2 separate regions of the Homo sapiens genome follow, and region 2 is linked to region 1. Evidence: fine-mapped expression QTL. A gene starts in region 1. The other region holds a variant in brackets. All regions are shown on one strand. Distances are between the middles of the regions.

Region 1 (12,002 bases):
ACTCTCTAGGTAACTGCATTAGTCATCAATGTAATCAGCCTTTTTCTTTCTTCTGAGTCAGGAAAGGGGTGCTGATGAGGCAAGATTCCGAACATTTGTGGATTCCTGGCCGTATACTACTGCTGTAAGACCTCCTTTTAACTGAATTTGGCCATATGCCTTTGGGCACCAGAAATTCATATCTTAATACATGTCGTTGTTGGAGTCAATACATGTTTAAACTGATATACTATATCAGTTATATTTATATCAATTCTCCCTTATTGATCCTAGAATAATTTAAAAGAAAATGAAAAGACTAGACATAATTATGGCCACACAAGACAGTAGCTACACAATTAAGTAATAAATGTTTTACAAACTTAAGTAATATATGGACCCCTCTTTCAAAGGAAAACAATTTTCTCATGGGCCACTTAATGTTTACTTAAAATATTTTAATTGTAATGTTAAAATGTATAAATATAAACTTGGTATGCATGCCTTATGCTTATACAGCTTACAAACAAAAATATACTTACAAATTAAATATAAACAAGGCTACAGAGCCAAATAAGCTTAAAGTTAACAACATTTATTTAATGTGAGACACTTGATGTTGTTTTGCTAATATTAAGGCCCTCCTTGCTGTGTGTATACAGCATGACATGGATTCTTTAGAATTTAGTGATCCATCTCATCATCTTGACTGCCCATTGGGAAAGACGCTCAATCTCTACCCATGTGGATTTTCTTGGAATTCCTGTAAGCTCCAAGGGTAAGTTAGGGTGTGCCTGGGTGTGCCTAATTAGGTACTGTTGCCCCAAAATCTGTACTCAGATTTGTACTAAATAAGCACAATTACCCAGGGTCAGGAAAAGATTTATTGCATTTTTTAAGTTTTAAAAGTAAAAATGAGATCATAGGCACTGCCCATGGCCTCTTTGTGCCCTTCTTTTATTTTTCCACATTTCTGGAAATTCTTTTTAAGTGCCTTCTAGAATTCTGTACCAGTCAGCAAAAATATTTATACCAAAGTTTGAGACAGGCAATTTTCTTTCAGTTGGAAGTAGTTGTTTCCACCTTGCTTGTATGGGGAGGGGTCTCTAATATGCACCCAATCATAATAGTCCCTGGGCTTTGTCTCCTGTTCTGCTTGCCTACCAAGGCCATGAAAACCTAAATTCTCCTTTACCTAGTTTGACAAATGCCCTCAGCTGAAATCCAGTTTTAGTCCTCAGCTTGCTTTCTGAATGATGGTCATGCCATGCTTCTGGAAATGGAAATTCCAAATCTTACCTTTGTAATTACATGCTGTACCCCCATCCCCAACGCCTGATGCAAGCATTTCAGTGATGCTGTTCTTTCTCCTCCAAGGCCAGGTGGGTTTCTAGTTGCACAGTAACAGTAATATGGAAGAGTAGACCTACCCAGTGAAAATTCACAAAGACAACCTGGCTTCTGCTTTCCAAACACAAAAGCATCATAGAAATACAAATGATAAAAATGTTAGAAACCCAAACATAGACTGTCACATGGCTGGGCATAGGGACATAAAAGACCAATTGTATGATTGTAACATAGACACTTCTTAGTTTTTTTTTTTTTTTTTAAGTTCAGAGGCACATGTGCAGTTTGTTACATAGGTAATTTTGTCATGGGGGTTTGTTGTACAGATTATTTGATCATCCAGATATTAAGCCTAGTTCTCGTTAGTTGTTTTTCCTGATCCTCTCCCTCCTCCCACCCTTCACTAGGCCCTGGTTTGTGTTGCTCCTCTCTCTCTCTCTCTGTGTCCATGTGTTCTCATCACTTAGCTCCTACTTATAAGTGAGTACGTGCGGTTGTCTGTTCCTGTGTTAGTTTGCTAAGGATAATGGCCTTCAGCTGCATCCATGTCCCTGCAAATGACATGATGTCATTCTTTTTTTATAGCTGCATGGTGTCTCTCGGCTTTTTTTTTTTTTTTTCTTGAAATGGAGTTTCACTCTTTTTGCCCAGGCTGGAGTGCAATGGTGTGATCTCGGCTCACTGCAACCTTTGCCTCCTGGGTTCAAGTGATTCTCCTGCCTCAGCCTCCCGAGTAGCTGGAATTACAGGCGACCACCACCATGCCCAGCTAATTTTGTATTTTTAGTAGGGACAGGGTTTCACCATGTTGGCCAGGCTGGTCTTGAACTCCTGACATCAGGTGATCCGCCCGCCTTGGCCTCCCAAAGTGCTGGGATTACAGGCATAAGCCACCGCGCCCGGCCTTCTCTCAGCTTTTTAAGAGAGCATTAAACTAAATGGGGCTCCTCTGACAATTTGTGACTACCAATTAGCTCTCACGTTTCCATAGACTGTTAGGACACCTTGTCCTCACTCTTTAAAAAAGGCAGACCTGGCTCTAGCTCCCCTGAGTAAGCCACCTCCCTGGTCCCCAGAAATTACAAAGTAAGAGGGCTGAGTATGATGTAGTATAGTGGGCCAGGTGATCTGGGGAGAAGGAGGCAGGGGTATGGAAATGAAGGAGAAAGGTGTGGCGAGGGTGAATGGTAGGAGAAGGGAAAGGTGAGGACAAGAGGAGGGGGCTCGTTTTTGTAGGACACTCCCAGGTGGACCTGGACATCATTACCTAGAGCAGTGTTCCTTAAATGTGCCCAGATAGGAAGCATAATTACAAAAGTAAGAACTTGCATTTTCAGAGAGCTTTCCCCCGGAAATTCTGATTCAGCAAGTCTAGAGCAAGGGCTATGGTATCTAAATGTTTCTGTTTAACGAGTGATACCATGCTAAGTAAAATACAACTTGTTTAAAATAAGGGAGTTCCTGAATTATGTCTGGCATACAATCCAATCCAGATTTCATGGAATATTGGAATGCCTGGAGATATAACAATCTTAGAACAAAACATTTGTAAAGCAGTGTAGAAAAAAACAATAAACAAAAATCCAAAATATCTTAATTTTGTCCATTTTGAGAGCATTAAGCCTACCCTCAGTAGTTGTCCAAGTTTCTAAGAGTTAGGGTGAAGACAGGACATGACTGATGCGCAGTACTGTGCAACCAAAGCTTTAGAAAGGGAACTGGGTAAAGAGGCGTGTCGCCTTATGCCACCTTGTGGCAGAATTGGGTAGTTAATGAAGACCGGCTGGAGGTCGAATGACTTGGGTCCTTCAACAAATACTCATTAAGTCATCATTTGAAAAAAAAAATCACTTAAAATCTGAGTCTGTTTTCTCCTTTTAAAAAAGATTACTATTTGCTTAAATTATGTTTTTGATACAAGCAATGAGACTTTAAAAGTGAAATAAAATATTAAGTATTCTTTTTATCATTGCTAATGCTGTTTTCCCATTTATAAGTGAGGGAAAAACTTATTTTTCCAGGGATATTCCTTTTTCTCTTGATTAAGATGGTGAACAGAAGGTGGCTGGTCAGAAATGAATGGGGAATGCATTCAATGAGAGAGATCTCTGCCATCCTCCTCTTCATCTATTCTATTTTCCCAATTCGCTAGAGTGAGACAGGCTACTTTGAAGATGTCAGATGGCTGACTGAGGTGCTCAGAAAAGACAGATCTCACCAGTAGCTGCAGAATATGGTTACCTACTATGATGGTTAATTTTATGTGTCAATTTCGCTGGGCCACTGTGCCCAAATAGTTGGTGAAACATTATTCTGGATGATTCTGTGAAGGTGTTTTTGTTTGTTTGTTTGTTTGTTTGTTTTTTTGGATGAGATTAATATTTAAATTGGTAGACTAAAGCAGATTACCCTCCAAAATGTAGGTAGGCCTCATCCAATCAGTTGAGAGCCTTAATAGAACAAAGACTAACCTCCCCTGAGCAAGAATGAATTCTGCCAGCAGACTGCCTTTAGACTTAAACTGCAAATCTTTCCTGGGGCTCCAGGTTGCAAACCTGCCTTGTAGATTTTGGTTTATCCAGCCACCACAATCCTGTGAACCAATTCCTTATAATGTCCCTCTCTCTCTTTCTCAAATCTCTTTCTACACACACACACACACACACACACACACACACACACACACACACAGAGTTGATTTTATTTTCTGGAGAGCTGTGACACCTGTGAAGGTGTTAGATAACTGGAACTTTTGAGAAAGACATATATCCCAGTTGCTAGAGAATATGGTTACCTACATGGTGAGAATTGAAAGGTACTAGAAAAGTCTGCTCTCTTTGTAGAATCTTCTCTAACACTCAAGTGTGGGTTGAAGTTAGGGGTGACCTAACTCAGTTGATTGGCTCCATTTCCCTGAGATTCTCTTGGTTCTGCTCACCCCTATGTGGTCGCTCCATTCTCAAGAATGATCTCAGGAAGCCTCCAACAGTTTCAGCCTCACACAGAAAATCTGGAAGATAAAAATCTGCTTCAATTCTAGTATTCAAAGAAATTCACCCTGATTAAAGTGTCAATTGCTGACTAGGACTTTGGCTTGGGAAATGGAACTTAGTATTTAAGACAATCCTTGGAGATTGGGGTGAAATCAGTTTTCCCTAAGACTTAATGGAATCAAAGTGCTATATGGATACATGAAAAAAATCCTGGTTCTGCTAAGGTGAGGGAAGGGGAATAGCTGTTGGGTAGATCACCAATAATGTCCACCAGACACTTACGTAGTACCAGCAATTGATTTATCACAATGTAACACACAAGTGATGATACTCAAATTAAACTATACTAGTGCTAAGGAACCAGTAAAGATTAGTGGGGATTATGGTAAACAAGAATAACATGATCTATTAATAAAAGAGAGCCACGCCAAGCGTGGTGGCTCATTGCCAGTAGCTGTGGCTCAGGCCTGTAATCTCAGCACTTTGGGAGGCTGAGGTGGATGGATCGTCCGAGGTCAGGAGTTTGAGACCGGCCTAGCCAACATGGCGAAACCCCATCTCTACTAAAAATACAAAAATTAGCCAGGTGTGGTGGCGTGTGCCTGTGATCCCACCCACTTGGGAGGCTGAGGCATGGGAATTGCTTGAACCTGTGAGGTGGAGTTTGCAGTGAGCCGAGATTGTGCCACTGCACTCCAGCCTGGGTGACAGAGTAAGACTCTGTCTCGAAAAAAAGAAAAAAAAAAAAAAAGAAGAAGCCACTACTTTGCTCTAAGCAATGTGACCATGCAAAAATATAACCCTTCTGTTGCAAGATCATCAACATTTTTTAGAGAAACTGATAATTTGGATTTTTATGTAAAATAGCCATATTTTAAATGTTGGCAACTAAGTTCATTTTTGTTCTTGTTTTTAACCACGCAGGACAGCCAATACTGTCTAAAATAAACAAAGCATAACTGTTGGCTAAATGCAGTCTGTGAACCTCTAGTTTTCTGGGCTAGAAAAACCATTACTTGCCATTCAGTAGTTCTATGAATGAAAGGCTTGCTAAGAGTAGAGGAACCAAAGAAGATGAGAGAATGAGTGTCATTGTCTCATACAATGCTTTTCGGCAGGTGTGTCCCCACTCACATGTTCTCAGGCTCCCACTTCACGGAATGAAATGTGAAGTCCACTTGGGGCCAGTTAATTCTTTCCAAGATAGTCAAGGTGTTCCACTGCCAGGCACCAGGAACACTTGTTTCCCTGGTGTTGACCATCTTACTTCATTTACAGGTAAGCCCTAGCAGGTACAGGGACAAAAGTCTTCACACTAACAGAAATCCAGTGTAGATTAGCTTCTTTTTTTCCCAAGATGCCTAAATTCTATTTTTTAAAAAAGATATAGCGATCATTCTTCCATTTCTAGACCCTTAGCTGACGTCATTAGGTAGTTTATCATAGTTCTGCGAGACATACAGCTTTTCATTAATAGGTTAGATTAATTACCGTCCTATCATTAAAACGCATTTAGTTTAACTGAATGGAAAATAGCAGTTTGTCATAAACTTAAAAAAAAAAATCAATGCTTAATTAGCTTAAAATAGACTAGTACTGAGATCAGAGACTGATTGGCGTTTATCTTTTCCCTGGACAATTTCTTGTTCCCAAAAAAGCACAAGGGCAGTAGTTGTCACTCCTGCTTACGCATTAGAATCTAGTGGATGGAAATGCGGGGTTTGGGGGGAGGAGATGAGGGGAACGCTTTTTTAAAAAAGCTTTTGTCCAGGCCAAGTGATTCTAATGTGTAGACAGGGCAGAATACCGCTCCCTGTGCGGGGGAAAAAATCCCCAACATCTGAAATTCCTCAAATCCCTCAGATTCTCTCCAGAACTCTTCATTTCAGCACGTAGGGGTACCAACGAACAATTTTCTGAGGTGTCTGAGGCTAGTCATGTCCCCGGAGATTGACGGGACCGTCAGCCAATCGGCCGTCTGAACGAGTGATGGCAACCCCAATGACAAGCAACAGAATGAGGAACTTTATCCCCGCAGAAAGACCAGATCGCAGTAGCAAAGGTCAACAAGTCAACAAAAGCCAAGGGCTCTCCGTCAGGCATCAGCGAGGCCCGAGTACTCTTAGAGGTCGTAGCCAGGAGAGGGTCCCGCGCTTGCCCAGCGTTGCTAGGGAGGCGGCGCTTGCTCAAGCTTCTCGTGCCCTCTCCGTACGTCACTTCCGCCCGGCGGGGTCTCATAGTCCTATGGGCTGGGTTGAAGCCACTTCCTTTTTTCTTTCCCTTTTTCCTCTCCGTGGCCCCGCCTCCCGGAAGTTCTGCCTTGTCTCCGCCGCGGGTCAGGGGTGAGAGCTGGAATCTCTGCACGGGCCTTGGTGAGTAACTGCTGCGAGTTCTGTTCCCGCGCGGCGCCAGTTCAAAGAACTTAGGTTAGATCACGCTTAGGGCCCAACAGGACTGTGCCAGGCCTCAGGAGTCTCCACCCTCTCCAGTTTTGGGGCCGTCAGTCTCCTGGGCCTGCAATTATCCACGCTGAGGCTGAGGTCTTTGGCTTTTAGCGAGTTGGATTGCAGCCTTGTTCTGCTTCTGTGTCTTCTCTCTCCAGGCGAGGTCCTACTGAGGTTGTTGCCAGCGATAGTCCTCTCCTGGAGCTTGAATTGGAAGCAGAGTAGTCTTGTTAGTCTCGGTGATGGCTGCGTTGTTTCCTGAAGTAGCCAAAGTGCTTTAGCATCCATTCCGCCTCCTTTGAGCACCCTGGGAGGTAGGCAGGGCAGACGAAAAATATATTCGTTAATATTGTGCAGTTGAGGAAACTGAAGCTCTTGGCGAATTCACTGTTTCAAAGCAACACGGCCTCTAACAGGCAGAACTGAAATTCGCACCCAGGTCTAACTAACGTAGGGTTGCATAAAACAGTGGAGAGAGCGTTTGGAAATAGGGAAAACACTGCAAACGTTAAAGAAGAGCTGGGGTTTCTGAGTGCTTACTTTGTGTTCGGCTTTGTGCCAAATTCTTTCTATAATTATATCATCCATTTTATTTTATAATAAGCATAGGAAGTATATACTGTGGTTATTTATTCCTGGGTTAGGAAACTGAGGCTTAGAGATGATAACTGACTTGTCTAGTACTAATGACTTTAGTAGGCATTTCACAGATCTCTTTCAGCTCTGTGATTCTTTCAACACTGTAGTATTAACTTCTGGCATAATCAAACTGCCCTTTTCTGATTTTGGCATTACAGGAAGAGAGATTCCAGAACTTTATTTTTGGTCTCTTCACCCTTTGCCCATTGTCTCATTTCTTATCACCATTCTTATCACCATCCTATTTAGAAATTTATAGTCATGTAAATTTAGCCTTGACTTTCTTTTTTTTTTTTTTTTGAGACGGAGTCCCGCTCTGTTGCCCAGGCTGGAGTGCTGTGGTGCGATCTCGGCTCACTGCAAGCTCCGCCTCCCGGGTTCAAGTGATTCTCCTGCCTTAGCCTCCCGAGTAGCTGGGACTACCGGCGCCCGCCACCACGCCTGGCTAATTTTTTGTATTTTTAGTAGAGACGGGGTTTCACCGTGTTAGGCAGGATGGTCTCGATCTTCTGACCTCTTGATCCGCCCGCCTCGGCCTCCCAAAGTGCTGGGATTACAGACATGAGCCACCGCGCCCGGCCCGCCTTGACTTTTACTCTACAATTTAATTTTTTTTTTTTTTCCTCAAAGAGAAATATGGAGATGGTTGTGGAATTAATGGATCCAGGTTAAAGGGTTGGCCAGAAAAGTTGCTAGTTTTTACTCTATTGTTTTACTCTATTGTTGCTTTGCTTACATATATTATGTCAGTTTCTGCCTTTTTTTCTATCAGGAAAACGACTGTCTTCTTCTGCCAAAATGTCAGGAATTGGAAATAAAAGAGCAGCTGGAGAACCTGGCACCTCCATGCCTCCTGAGAAGAAGGCAGCTGTTGAAGATTCAGGGACCACAGTGGAAACAATTAAGCTAGGAGGTGTCTCTTCAACGGTATGAGGAAACAGTGCCATGAAAGTGTGCTTGTCTTCTGTCAGTTGCAACTTGAAACTAAAAATTCATGGAAGCTTTCTGGAGTATGGGGAAGCTATTTGAAAAGAAGAGGGAAATAAAACAGGCTGAAAGTAGGTAAAATGATGTGGTAGTCAGTTCTAGAGGAGAGGTAGATTGATAGTTGTTCTTTGTTTTCAAGGTGTACTTATATTCTTTCGAGAATCTGGGAAGGTGGTGCCTGATACAACATTAACTATAGGTATTTAGCAGTGGGAAGATACACATTTATTTTTCATTCACTGAAAAAGTCAGTACCAGATTCTAAGAGACAGTTTAGCAATCATTGAGAGTATGGTGAAGAGTGAGAGTCTGAGACCAGATTGCCTGGAGTTGACTCTGAGCTGTACCACTTCCTAGCTGGCTGACCTTGTGTTATCCTTCCTTTGCCTGTTTTCTTGTCTGTAAAATGTAATTAGAGTACCTGCTACATTAGATTTTTATGCATATAAAATAAGAGTCCCTGTTAAGGGCTAACACTTTGCATTTAATATAGTAAATAGTCAATAAATGGGAGGCATTCATAGCTAATATTGGGCTAGATAATATAATGGTGCATAACATAGATATTATCCTTGCTCTTATGGAGCTGACAAAATGAGTATTATATACCAAAATCTCATAGTAATGTTATATATCTGTTAGACATCAGAAGTTTACAGGTTTTGATCTACGTCAAGATTTTGCTTTTTTGAAAATCAGACATGGGGATGTGATATTAAAATGTTTTACATTTTGTAAAATGCTTTACATTTGTATGGCTTGCAAAACCACATCTATTGCTTATTTGATTTTGAGGCTGAGGTTTATTTTAGAGAGGCTGATTTTTTTTTTTGAGTCAGAATAATAGGAACATTCATAGTGAGTTGTTGATGAAGTGTCATTTCTGAGGCTGCCTGAGGTTCTGGTACTTAATATTGCTGGCAGGAAGTGATTTTTGTTTTAGCACTGCCTTGCATCATGCATTCCAAAGGCATTTATTCACTCAATATATAAATATTTGTTGAGTATTTGTTATTTGCCAGACACTATCCTTTACACTGAAGACAGCCCCTAGACTTTAGTTTGTAGGGTAGCACTGACAAGGGAATAGACTGTTTAGAGTGGGGTATGTGCTGTTGACAGGGATAAGCACATACTTATGGGAAGCACATAGCACACACCCCAGTGTGGACTTTATCCAGAGGCAATGAGGAGTTAGTGGATAGTCTTAAGTAGGAGACTAACATGCTCTGACTTGTGTTTGGAGACTATAGAAAAGCAAGGATTATAAACAAGAGTCCAGCTAGCAGACTTTTTTCTTTTCTTCTTCTTACTCTCTTTCGCTATAACTGCATCTCTCCAAAGGTGGGGATCTGAGGCATGTATCCACTGATCCCCGCTCCAATTGGTTGAAGGTTGCCATTGAAAGCAGTCCCTCCTGTGCATTTTGAGATTGCTGTTAGGAGCCAGCTGTGATTGCGGGACAGAAAAACTGAGTCTCCAAAGTGTGCTTGAAGTGGGAACAATGGCAGTGTAAATGGAGCTGTCCACCACAGCTGTGCTGAAATCTGGCAGGCTGACAGGACTTAGCACAGAGTTTTTGCTATAGGAGGCCTTTGCAGTAATCTTAATGAGAAATCATGGTGGCTTGGACCACTGTGGAGGTAGCATTGATAAGATCTGCTGATGGATTGGATAACTCACATGAAAGATAGGAGGGAGGATCATCCCAGGATTTTGAAAGTAATGGAATTTTTACTTACTGAGCTAGAGAAGTGTATGAGAGGAGCAGATTTTTGGGAGTCATGGAGGATGAATTGAGTTTGGTTTGGTTTGGGACATATAAGTTTGAGATACTTATTTGACCTCTGAATGGATAGGTAGTTAATAAGCTGGATACTAGAGAGAGGTCTGGGCTAAAGCTGTATATTTGGGAATCGTCATTTTGTAAGTTGTGTTTACATCTATGAGACTACAGACTCCTTTAATGAATAAGCATAAAGAGGTCTGCTGGGGCACTACAATATTTTCATGTCAAGGAATGAGAAAGGACTAATCAAAGATACAAACAAAGAGGGACCAATGAGGTAAGAGGATAGGAAGAGAGAATGGGTTCCCAGAAGCTCAATGAAGAAAGTATTTCAAGAAGGAGCTGATTAGGTGCTGCTGATGTGTTCTCATTCAGGTTTCAGTTGGAACAAGGGGAATAAAGGGAGGACTGAGGTGTTATATTTAATAATAGTTCACTGGAGATACCAAAACACCTTTGTTGGTGAAATAGTGGGGATGGCACCCTGTTTTCAGTGAGCTTAAGAGAATATGAGGGGAGAGGAATTAGGAAAAAGAGAGTAGAGACAATGCTTTATAAAGGAGTATCGCTGTAAAGTAGATGACTATATAATGACTGATCATGGAATTTAAGTTCAGTAAAGAAGGAGGTGAGAGAAGTGAAAGGTATAGGACCAATGGATTGTAGATCCTGGAGAGGTTAAAGAATTTTTGGAGTAAGGAAACTGGAGAGAGTGAGCTGGAAAAATAGTGGTAGTTGTGAAGAATGAGGTGTTTGAAATTGAGCTTATAGAGGACATGTAGGTACAAGTAAGACTAAATGTGGGAGTTGGTGGCTGAAGGAGGTAGAAGACAAGATCATTGGTGAAGAGGAGGTCAGTGACTTGATGATTCAAGTATAGGAAAGGTTATCTGTATGGGTATTGAAATCATTAAGAATGATGACAGGAAAAGTATTGGAGAGTGATAATAAGGTAGGTGCTAAGTCTTTGTGAAATGTGAGGAAACGACGTGGGCATTTACAGATGAATTCAACAGAGCATGGCGGCAGGTGGTATAGGCTAATGGCATGAGCTGCAGAGGTAGGAGGTTTTAGGGAGGAAGGTGGGGTAATGGCCTGGAAGTGGCAATGGAAAATAAGGAGGATATTCATCCCTCTCTGGCTTCAAGGGGTGTGGAAGAGAAACAGCCACCACTAGAGAAGCCTGCAGGGAAACAGTTTCTCATCCAAGTTTCAGTTAGAGCAAGAAGGGAAAGGCAATGTTCAGAGAAGAGTTTGAGGATATAGTTTATTAATAGTGTTAATAAACTGGTACAGTGGGAAAACTGTTGACTACTTTGGCATATTAGGAATGTTTTAATTAAAGTGGAAAAGAGAAAAATGAAACAAAAATTGGTGGTGTAATAAACAATTGTCACTTTAAAATAATGATTTCATTAATTCCTCAGAAAAGTAAGACTATTTTTCCACATGCTGGTTCTTTGCTTGTTATATCCTCCAATCCCACCTCCCACCAACCCCTCCCTGGTTTGTCCTAGGGAAGGAGCTGGAGAGAGAAAAATATTGAGAGGGATGTGAAATTACTAATGGAGTGAGGGTTTTGTAGAGACAGAAGAGAACAGGATCCTGAGCACAAGCTGAGGTTTTAAGAATGTGTGCATAATTGTGTTAATGGGTCAAAGAGATGGGGAATTGTTTTCCATCTGATGGCTTCTATTTTCTCATTAAAATAGGAAGTAAAGCCATCTGTTTTGTATGATGTAAAAGGGGGCAGGGTTTGGTAGAGGTTGATGTTGCCTTGCTGGAGAATGGGAAATAGCTCACTTGATAAAGAAATATTTC
Region 2 (12,002 bases), 32 kb after region 1:
TTCATCTATTTATCATTTCTTTTGTTGCATTTGCTTTTGGGTTCTTGGTCATGAAGTCTTTGCCTAAGCCATTGTCTAGAAGGATTTTTCCAATATTGCTTTCTAGAATTTTTATGGTTTCAGGTCTTAGATTTAAGTCTTTGATCCATCTTGAGTTGATTTTTGTATAGGGTGAGAGATGAGGATCTAGTTCCATTCTTCTACATGTGGCTTGCCAATTATCCTACCACCATTTGTTGAATAGGGTGTCCCTTCCCACTTTATGTTTTTGTTTGGTTTGTCAAAGATCAGTTGACTACGTATTTGGCTTTATTTCTGGGTTCTCTATTCTGTTACATTGGTTTACATGCCTATTTTTATACCAGTACCATGCTGTTTTTGTGACTATGGCTTTATAGTATAGGTTGAAGTCAGGTAATGTGATGCCTCCAGATTTGTTCATTTTGCTTAGTCTTGCTTTGGCTATGTATGCTCTTTTTTGGTTCCATATGCGTTTTAGGATTGTTTGTTCTAGTTCCGTGAAGAATGATGTTGGTATTTTGATGGGAATTGCATTTCATTTGTAGATTGCTTTTGGCAGTATGGTCATTTTCACAATATTGATTCTACCCATCCACGAGCATGGGATGTGTTTCCATTTGTTTGTGTCATCTGTGATTTCTTTCAGCAGTGTTTTGTAATTTTTCTTGTCGAGGTCTTTCACGTTCTTGGTTAAGTATATTCCTAAGTATTTTATTTTATTTTTTTTGCAGCTGTTGTCAAAGGGTTTGAGTTCTTGATATGATTCTCAGTTTGGTTGCTGTTGGTGTATAGCAGAGCTCTGATTTGTGTACATTAATTTTGTATAGTGAAGCTTTGCTGAATTCATTTACCAGTTCTAGCACCTTTCTGGATGAGTCTTTAGGGTTTTCTAGGTATATGATAATGTAATCAGCAAACAGTGACAGTTTGACTTCCTCATTACCAATTTGGATGCCTTTTATTTCTTTCTCTTGTCTGATTGCTCTGGCTAGGACTTCCAGTGCCATGTTGAATGGAAGTGGTGAGAGTGGCATCTGTGTCTTGTTCCAGTTCTCAGGGGGAATGCTTTCAACTTTTCCTTGTTCAGTATAATGTTGGCTGTGGGATTGTCATAGATGGCTTTTATTACCTTAAGGTATGTCCCTTCTATGCTGATTTTGCTAGAGTTTTAATCATAAAAGGATGCTGGATTTTGTCAAATGCTTTTTCTGCATCTATTGAGATGATCATGTGATTTTTTAAAAATTCTGTTTATATGGTGTATCAGATTTATTGACTTGTGGATGTCAAACCATCCCTGTATCCCTGGTGTGAGACCCACTTGATCATGGTGGACTATCTTTTTGATATGCTTTTTGAAGGCAGTGTGAGAAACTGTTAGAATGGTTACCTCTACATATTGGGATGAGTTGTGGGTGAGGTTAGGAGGTGGGTGTTTGTGATTTTACTTTTTACACTTTAATATTGTTTGATTCTACTTTGTGCATTAATTTCAAAAAAGACTCTTTTAGAATGTCTAGCCATTCTGAAGGAAATACTCTTGGACTTTTGTTTGAGTTCTAATTTATATGTTATAGTATGAATTGCCAGGTTTTAAGCATTAGCATGCATTCTCTATTTTTGGCAATTTGGAAAAGAATCTTTTCAGTCATTTTTCAGACTCTTACTGAATCTTCCACAATATTTTATATTAAAAGTAAAGCTTTCAGTTATCATAGTCTTGATGTATTTTGAAGGGTTCATGGGCAAAATCAGTAATAGTTTGAGATTTCTAACATACTGTATTTTGTGGGCTTATAGATTAACAGAATAGTTTTTTTTCTTTTTTTAATCTTTTCATTTGTGTTAAAATCTGATTTTCTGTTCAAAGGTTGATGCCCAGCTACAGGTAGTAAGGAAACTGGAAGAGAAGGAGCATCTGTTACAGAGCAACATTGGCACAGGGGAGAAAGAGCTGGGTCTTAGGACCCAAGCCTTAGAGATGAATAAACGCAAGGTATGATTGATTAATCTAATGATGGTTAGTCTCAGTGGAACAAATAAGTATAACACTGTTGAGATTGTAAGTTCGCTTTATTCCTTCAACTTGGGCTAACATTTTGCCTCACTGGCAATAATAGGTGATACAATGGTGTCACTTATTTGTACATCCTACATAGGCAATGGAGGCAGCCCAGCTTGCAGATGACCTCAAAGCACAACTGGAGTTGGCTCAGAAGAAGCTACATGATTTTCAGGATGAGATCGTGGAGAACAGTGTTACCAAAGAAAAGGACATGTTCAATTTCAAACGAGCCCAGGTAAAAGCAGTTGTCTTTTCTTGTCACCTTTTAGGTGTTTTCTGAGGTCGGAAGTGACCCATATCATGAAAGAATCATTAGTCCAATGTATGTCATTTCCTACTAGACTTGAGGAAGTTTGTTGAGGGAAGAGAGTAAGTCTGTTTTCTTCACTGCCATATCCTCAGACTCTTTTATGGTGCCTTGCACCTAGTAGGCACAAAATAAATATTTGTTAAATTAATGAATTAGTAAATTGTTAAAGAAGTAACAGCATAGCAGCAGTAGAGGATTTTCAAGTTCTTGTATAATGTCTCTATTTTTGTCATGCTAGCTGTTTCTCATGATGTCTTTCTGTCTTTATCCGTAAGTCTCTGAATTATTTTAAACCGTTCTACCTTCAGCTTAAAACTAATTACTATAAAACAAAATAGACTGTCCTCTAAACTCTTAGATGTGTTTTCACAGGACTGAATTGGTAATAGATGCAATTCTAATTTGGGGATATAATTATGGTTGCCTCTTCTGAAACAAAAGAAAATATCCTGCCATTTGCAGTTCTCTACATTTCTACAAGATAATTGACCATAAAAGGATAGAAAGTCCCCTCTTTTCACAACAGAAAACTCAAGTCTATTATTTTTCTCAAAAATGATAGATTTGGGTAAGTGTGTCTAATGGGTATGCTATCCTGCCACAGGAGGACATCTCTAGACTTCGCAGGAAGCTGGAGACCACAAAGAAACCAGACAATGTACCCAAGTGTGATGAGATTCTGATGGAAGAGATTAAGGATTACAAGGTTAGAAAAAATGCCTTAGTGATTAGTTTTTTGTCAAAGCTTTAAGTGGCCTAATAGACTGGGAGAATAATTTGCATGATAGTAACCAGAGAATGGTTTATTTTGGAGGTTGGGGGGAAATGATGCTCTTTTTTTAGTGCCTTGTGGGTTTTCTTCTTGGTTGTGTAGTATATGAGAGCCATTTGGATCATAAACTTTCATGGTTGTTCAAACTCTGACATCTTTTCTTTTTAGGCACGCTTGACCTGTCCGTGCTGTAACATGCGTAAAAAGGATGCTGTTCTTACTAAGTGTTTTCATGTCTTCTGCTTTGAGTGTGTGAAGACACGCTATGACACCCGCCAGCGCAAATGTCCCAAGTGTAATGCTGCTTTTGGTGCCAATGATTTTCATCGCATCTACATTGGTTGATCTAAGTCAAGAGAAGAAGAGGAGCTGGCTAGTCAGGAACTTATTCATTAACCACCAAACCTCTACCTCTTCTCTCCTTGACTGTCACCTGTAGGACAGTTTATCAGTCAACTACCTTTCCTCCAGACTTTACTTCCAGGCTCTCCTCTTCAGTAGCTGGATGACTTTAGCAGAAAGGACTGGTAAATACAAGCCTTGGGTTTCAGAATGAATTAGAAACAAATAACTCTTACTGTCTTCCCTCCCAGCTTTGTTTATTTTGTGCTTTTAGACTTTTCAGTGTTTTCTTTTTCCAGCCCACTGTATAAACTTGGATTGTCCATTCCTCCTGAAGAAATCAAGTTGGTATTTTTGATGTGGAAAAGGGAACAAAAGTGGAAACATGGCTACTTTTGGGGAGTGATATTTTAAAAAATAAGTTGTCTATGGGCACAAAGTTTTCTTCATTTGTGTAGCAAACTTCTTGTGAATGTGGATTACAAAATGGTATAATTGTGCTACTCTCCCCTGGGTGGTTTGCAGCCCTAATGAAATTATGTCTAGGATGATTCAGTCTATTTCCCATTTACTAGCAGAGTAACTTGTTAAGATCAGCTGGCTTTCTTGTTAAAGTTATTTAAGTTTTGAATGCTCTACTACTTCAAGTCTTTAAATTTCTTGAGACTAGAATAATTTTAAATAATATGACCCTTTGTCTTCTAATGAAATAAAGATTGAAGAGGTTGAGTCAGGACTGAGCTGGTGAAGAAATCTTGTGGGTATTCTGGAAATTTGATACGGAGAGAACTTGGTGAGCTATGAATTACTCTCAGTCTCCTTTTTACAGGGTTGTTGTGATCCCTCTTTTCCAGAAAATTCTGTGGAATGTTTCTGTAGGACTTTGTTCTCCACAAGCTTGAATTAAAGCAGGATTCAGTTTGCATTTGTGTTTATGGTTTTTCTTTGAAACTTTTGTCTTTATTATTACAAGTTGATTTTATATCTGCTGTTATAGAATTAAATTTTCTTGCATGGAAATAATCAGCTTAGGTTAAGAGGTTGGCCTTGTTTAGAGTATTTAGATCTTTGCTTAATTGAAGCACTTTTCTCCCAATTCTTTTATTGAGTCTATTCTATGGAGAAATTATACCTAAAAGATTAATTTATTTGACTACTCAGTTATCTTTCATAGTTCATTAGGTGGGGTAAGAGACTATAATTTGTTTTTTGGGGGAGCATATTGCTGCCTCTAGCTTTAGGGTGAGAGTTCTTGCATTA[T/TGTG]GTGGTGGGTTTTTTTTTTTTTTTTTTGAGATGGAGTTTTGCTCTTGTCGCCCAGGCTGGAGTGCAGTGGCACAATCTTGGCTTACTGCCACCTCCGCCTCCTGGGTCCAAGCAATTCTCCTGCCTCAGCCTCCCGAATAGCTGGGATTACAGGTGCTCACCACCATGTCCAGCTAATTTTTGTATTTTTAGCAGAGATGGGGTTTTACCATGTTGGCCAGGCTGGTCTCAAACTCCTGACTTCAGGTGATCCACCTTCCTTGGCCTCCCAAAGTGTTTTGATTACAGGTGTGAGCCACCATGCCCAGCTGCATTATGTTTTATAATAACCAGCAAACCAGAGGTTTCATAAATCTCTGGCAAGGGGTTGTGTAAAATGGATCCTTCTTGATCACCACCTGTCCTAGAAGACAGGTAAGAGCAAATTCTGTGTCTTTCTGTGGTCACCAGCTATAATCAGCAGGATTTGCACTGAATTCCACAAAGTCATGTGGTATGAATTAAGCAATGAGTCTAATTGAAGAATCTTACTAGGTCATCAAGAGAGGTCATGGGTCCCTTGATCCCCCTGCTCAGCAAACACCCCCACCCCCACAGAACCATCATGACAGGATTAGCTCCTGCTTCTGGACACAGTGAGTTTTCATTTAGTAATAGGACACTTTCCCCTTGCTTCTTGCTCTTCTTATAGGGTAAGCTTGAGCATAACTTTGTTGGTTGGGTGCAGATATACTGCTTGGTCAACAGGTGGTTTGGGCTTGGCTGTTGGCTGTTTGTGACAATTGGCTGAGAAAGCCAGCTGCCCAGCACCAGGGGACCATAGGGCCTGTGGAATGTTGTGGAGGAAACCACTAGCCCCATGGGAAGTTGGATTTAGAGGAAGTTCCTCTAGTTGAGATGAGCAGGGAGCCCCTGATCCCAACTGGCTTGAGGTCCTGGCAACACAAGTTGAGCTCTCACAGTCATTTTCAGATAACAACCAAAAATGATGGTGATTTTTTGGCAGTTGGCTTCTCTCACTACAGAAGAGGTCAATGAATGCGCTTTAGGAATACTCCCAAACTGCATACCAAATTTTATTTGTATTGTATGTACATTATTCATAGCTTTTTTGGATCCTAGTTAGCAATCACAGCCCTTGATCCATATGAACTTTAAAGGGTAATTTCTTTAAGGTAATGCTTATAAATGCCAATTTCAAAGATTATTATAGAAGTCCTAGAGGCTTCTCATTTCTTAAAAACACTTCAGGCTGGGTGCAGTGGCTCACGCCTATAATCCCAGCAGTTTGGGAGGCTGAGACAGGAGGATTGCTTGAGCCCAGGAGTTTGAGACCAGCCCAGGCAACATAGGGAGACCCCGTCTCTACAAAAAATTTCGAAAATTAGCTGGCTGTGGTGGTGCACACCTGTAGTCCCAGCTACTTGGGAGACTGCAGCGGGAGGATAGCTTGAGCACCGGAGGTTAAGGCTGCTGTGAGCTGTGATTATGCCATGGACTCCAGCCTGGGTGACACAGTGAGACCCTGTCTCAAAAACAAACAACAACCATTTCAGATTTTGTAGGGATGGTCTCTCTCTCTCTTTTTTCTTTCTTTCATTGTTACCTTGGAAATTTCTTAGTGACTTTGACCAAAGTCAGGTGTGCTCTGAGGCATGCATAACTACATGGCTTGGATCTTACCTTCTTACTTACTATAGGGATCTTTTTCAAAGGTATTGAGCTGTTTCTGCAATTGTTTTCTTACATGAATTTCCATTGCAATTCCTTTTCCTTTTTCTCTGTCCAGATCCGTAGGCTTCCTTGTTCTTCAAGGGCCGGAATTTGATGCACATAGTTTAATGTACATGCCACTAGAGTGATGACTGTGATTTGATTTTGTGAAGATTCTAGACAATAAATAATCATCAGTCTTCTAAACCTACTAGGATGGTGATGCTTACACTTGCCGGAAGCATATGCTACTCTCATCTTTATTCCCATTGTCATTTGCTAGGATGTGGAATGCCGTTACATATTGTTCTTTGAAGATTTATCTGAGGACTGCCAGATAAACCCATGTCCCAGTGGATCTGCAGAAAAGTTTTGATTAGTCATTATTGCAGAAGTCTGCTTTTCTGATGTTAAGACAGATACACTGAGATTAGTAGAAAAATGGTGGATTATGTGTAGGTTGGATTGGGTTTGCACAATAGGAAACCCATGACATAGAAATACTTACAAATTTTCTAGATCTTAAAGTTTGGAAATACTTAAAAGTGGTCCTATCAGAAAGAATGAGCTTTACCTTCTGGGATTCCTGCCCATGTTTGGTCTGTTCCAAATGTTAGCTATTAAGGTCTTACTTATAGCCTACTTCACAATTACTAAAGGACATGAAAAGGACAATGTCTTAACAGTCTAATCCCTAATATCTAGCAGAGGCACATAGTAGTCAGTAAAGTTTTTCATGATTAAATTAATTCTGCTTCATGGTTCTGCTGCCAGATCTTCCGAAGTCTGCTTTACTGGGCCAATGTGTGATTCAAACCTTATTACTCTTTCTTTTTTTCACCCCCTAAGTAGAAACAATCTTTCCCCATATATCGAAGTAACCCTTCAAATTTGTATTATCCAAAAATATATGACTACAGTTTTAATTTATTTTGTGGCAATAAAAGGAATTATTATGAATTCTAAAACTAACACTTCTGTAGTGGCAGCTCATGAGACTGCTGAGTCTCATGTAGCTGAGACTTCACTTACTGCAAGGCACACATGATAACCACTACGCTACGGAAACCTGCATAAAAGCTTCATTTATTGTAAGTTAACCTTTTTTTTTTTTGAGGGAAGCTATGTTCACATTAATATAATAATAATATGCTCTGAGGATATTAGAGCTGAAAGGGAACTCAGACCATGTCCTTATTTTAGAAGTGAGGAAATAGGTTCCAGGGCCACTCAGGTTAGCCACAGGATTGAAATGCTACTATGAGAACTCCATTGTTCTTTTATCCCAATCGGAGACCTGTACTAATAGAGTACATGTCATCAGGTAGACAATAAGTGAAAATACTTTCTGAGTCATTTTGAAGTCTTCTAAAGACTTACATATACCTACTATACTTATCCTTGATCATTCTAATCTAACTAGACTCTTTGCCAGGCCCTGGATTAGAACTACATTTTGTTTCTGAATTCACTGAGTTCCTTTAGCACCTTGTTGTAGAGTAGAATTGAATCAAGGGATCTTAGATTTCTTCCTGCTCTCCCAATCATATGCATTTGCTGAGTGCTTATTGTGATTCCAGGCATTGTGTTAAATATATTTCTCATGAAGTCCGACTTGCCTGCGTATGGTGCTGCTACTTATTAGCAAGTTACTTCATGTCTCTATGCTTCAGTTTCTTCATCTATAAAATAATAACTACATCATAGGGTTATATGGAGGATGAAATGAATCATCATACAGGAGACATTCAGCACAGCGCCTGGCACCTAGTAAATGCTCAGCAAATGCTAACTTTTATAATTGTTGAGCAAATAAAGAAATTGATAGATCAACTTTCGTTTCCACCTACATTTTCTTATTTCTAGGGAAAAAAACAAAACAAAACAAAACACTGACATCCTCCCTGAAATCTAAGACACACGTTTATCCATGTCTGTCTGTCTCTAGTCTGCCTGTCCTGGTAAATGATGTCATGGCCAACTCATTCCAAAACTTCAAAAAGTTAACTTTATCTGCTCACTGTCCTACAACTAAAATGCATGTGAGTGACATCCAGCTCCACCTGGTGGTGAGGATCCTGTTCTTTTACTAGTTGTCTCTTCAGCTTAAAATCCTTTAGTGGTTCCTGTAGTCTTCAGGACACAAATCCAATTTAGCACAAGTGATCTTGCCTCTGCTTTTCTCTTTCCAGTTCATATAGTTTGTCATCCACCTTAAGCTGTGTGTTTCTATTATATTAAATGATTTGAAGGTCCCAGTTTCTTGATTGCCATGGTTTCCCTAATCTGGAATTTTGTACATGCTTTCTTTTAGTTTAGTTGCCTGTTACCCTCCACTGAGTCTCTTCACCTCACACACCTGCACCCACATGCACACATACACACAGTGTTTTCTTCACTCCAATAGTACCCGTTGTGCATTTCCTTATTAGAGTACACACCATAAAATGTCAGTTTGTGTCCTTTCATTACACTGAGCTCTATGGGATCAGAATCTGCTGTTTTTATCTGTCTATTTCCAGCAACTAGCCCCAATGCCTGGGTACAAATAGGCATCCAAAATATGAATGATTGAGTAATGCAAAAACACCCTTAGGTAAGTAGGTAGTTGAATTAAGTTATAGTGGATTTACATTTTCATGAGATTTGATTGTTTCTATTCGGAAAGAATGTGTGTGAAGAAGGCAACAGGCTAGCAGATTCATGAAGGCAAATTTGCCTGCAGCTAAAACTGCTTGGGTTATCAGAAACTGCCCATATGTCTGGGACTGCAGGGCTGCTGCTGATTTGTAACTGTGTTTGCATCAGTTCTTGGTTGGGCTAGAAAGCAGAAAGAAAAGATGCTGAAATGCTATTTTTATGAGACATAGGTATTACAGTGTTGAGTTAAATGGACCAATGAAGGTGCAGTTACAATATCCGCTTCTCTCTCTGTTCTGTGGAGCTAGGGGCCAGGCCGAGGCATGGGAAAGAAGCAGTAAGGCAGAAAGACTAAAAGGGGATTCAAGGAAGAATAGAAAATTGTGAGGCAGTGACCGGAATCCTGTATGGTTGTACAAATCTCTGTTACTATTACTAGTTCTGCAACCTTGGGCAAGTTACATAGTTTCTCTGACTCTTGTTTTTTTATCTGTAAACTGGAGGTCTCATTTACCTACTTAAGACTACATCTATAGTGCCTATCTTGTGGGGTTGTTAAGATTAAATGAGATCATGGTTTATAATAAGTACCCAATATATGTTAGTTGTTACAGTATTACCTGTTTATAGGTTGTAAAAAGGTCAGATTGAGGGTGGGCGTGGTGGCTCATGCCTGTAATCCCCACACTTTGGGAGGCCGAGGTGGGTGGATCACGAGGTAAGGAGATCGATACCATCCTGGCCAACATGTTGAAACTCCATCTCTACTAAAATACAAAAAATTAGCCAGACATGGTGGCAGGCGCCTGTAGTCCCAGTTACTCGGGCGGGAGGCTGAGGCAGGAGAATCACTTGAACCTGGGAGGCAGAGGTTGCAGTGAGCCGAGATCATGCCACTGCACTCCATCCTGGTGACAGAGCAAGACTCCGTCTCAAAAAAAAAAAAAAAAAAAGAAAAAAGGTCATAAGTTAGGGACCATACCTATCTTCTTCACTATTGTGTCTCCAGCACTTGGCACGTACATGGAAGCTGTTTAGCAAATGTTTGTCGAATTACTGATGAGGGTGATCAGTACAGGATTTTAGAGACCTCTGAACTTGTGCTTTTTCCTGGAATGTCTATCTCAGATGAAGCCATTTCAGTTCTACTTCATGATGCCTGAGCTCTGAGATTTCTCAGCATATCTTGTGTTTCTTCTTTGGACTATAGCAAGGAAATAAGCATAAATCATAGCATTAATGGGTCTCCTATTAAGAAGGAACTGGTATCATGTCAACATTTGAATCCCCAAAGACAAAGCCAGCAGTACATCCAAAAGTGAAGTTTCTATCTGAACATTTATTCCACAGTCATAGAAACTGAAGATGGAAAAGACCTGAGGACATCTAATCCATCCATGTGGTTGTACAAGAAAAGTGGCTGGAGCAAAACAGCCCGTTCACTTCATGCTCACAAGACAGCATTTCCGTTCTTCCTGGAGCGGAGCGATTGCAAACACATTAAAATGAAGACACAATGCAAATACTCTTCACAAACCTTAAGAAAATACTTATAAATACATTATTTTCATAAAATGATTAGTAACTAAAAAAAAAGAGTGAGGGAATCCTGGATTAGATGGATAGTTTAGGTGGGTAAAGAAAGGAATAACTAAACAGTATAGATAGTAAAGTAGTATTAATGCCTAGAAAGCAATTTCTGAAGAACTGGATGGGTTTTCTGTTTTTCCTATCAAAAATATGAGTTGGGAGAAAAAGAGGCTCTAAAGTAGTTTCTTTCCCCTTTATTCTTTACCCACACCAAGGAAGTGCTTAACTTGCTCTAAGGCTCTAACAGACACAGCACCAACACTGAGAAGTCTGTTACCCAGATGATAAGGTCTGTTCTGCTTGGCACTTGCTCCGCTTACCACTTTTCTGGCTGGAAGGGAAGCAGCAGCTCTTGATAGGGTTTGTGCAATAGCAAGATTCATGAATAGCAGAGAGTCATCTCCAGGCACATTAAAGACCTCGACTGCTTGGGTCCCTGTGGCTGCTTCACTTGGCTGTCCTGGTTATTCTTCCAATTTGTTTTTAAATTTTGGGAGATTCCCCTTTCTCCTCCACCTGGAAGCATACACACTCTGGGGCCTTGATTATTCTTATTTACACGAACCAGGTAGCTATATCTGTTCCAGCTCATCTGAGCATGCTTTATCATGTGCTTCCTGTGCCAGAAAAGCAAGGTAGCGTCCCTTATCTCTTTCTTCTTTACCAGAATACCACCCTCTATCTGAAGGCTTCTGATCTTTGTGTTTTTTTTGAGCCTCAAAGGAGTTGAAAGAACAGAGGCAGAGCTGAACGGAAAGGAGGTTTCCAAGGACCCACCATTTCATGACATCATTTTACAAAACACAATACACTGTTTCACAAATTGCAAAACACTGTTCAGTTACTACCAATAAAAATAACCATTGCTACTTAACATGAAGACTGCTTCGTTTCACCACAAGCAATTATGGTTTTTCTTTATTCAGAACATAGAGGCATTTCAAGCAATGTTGATGGCAGTAAGCCTGCTGTCAGCCCCTGCTGCTGCTTGCTGCATCCTGGCCAGTGTTTTGGCCAGGTAGTTCCTCCAAAGATGTTTGAGGAGCGTGCATTGGTCATCTACTTTGTGGATAGGCAGGGCGATCTGGCATGTGATCACCACTGCTCAGAATGCCTCACTAGAGAAGCTTAAGGTAAATCCGATATACAAAAATGCAGACTTACAAAACAGATACATTAAGGGATAATTAATTGCATTACAAAAGGGTGCTTTACTTTACAAAAGAATTCACTTCTGGGTTCCCTTAAACAGCCAGCTTCTCAAATACAGTCAGAATATGAGCTGAGTT

What was found. PIP is the estimated chance that this variant, and not a neighbour inherited with it, causes the effect.
Region 2: its variant is fine-mapped to the expression of RNF20 in tibial nerve (GTEx, PIP 0.91).

Annotation. Positions count from the first base shown.
Region 1 is chr9:101,527,221-101,539,222 of GRCh38, forward strand. RNF20 (ring finger protein 20) reads left to right here and starts at 6,633. Exons shown (of 20, transcript NM_019592.7): 1 at 6,633-6,694; 2 at 8,178-8,332. The coding sequence starts at 8,204. It also overlaps a transcript of PGAP4 not described here. RefSeq lists an enhancer at 6,375-6,504.
Region 2 is chr9:101,558,910-101,570,911 of GRCh38, forward strand. RNF20 (ring finger protein 20) reads left to right here. Exons shown (of 20, transcript NM_019592.7): 17 at 1,892-2,017; 18 at 2,181-2,321; 19 at 3,001-3,102; 20 at 3,337-4,435. The coding sequence ends at 3,513. It overlaps GRIN3A (glutamate ionotropic receptor NMDA type subunit 3A), which reads right to left. Exons shown (of 9, transcript NM_133445.3): 9 at 10,443-12,002. Among named protein-coding and RNA genes, the nearest start is that of PPP3R2, 30 kb to the right of the region's middle. The variant T/TGTG (reference allele first, on the strand shown) is at 4,771.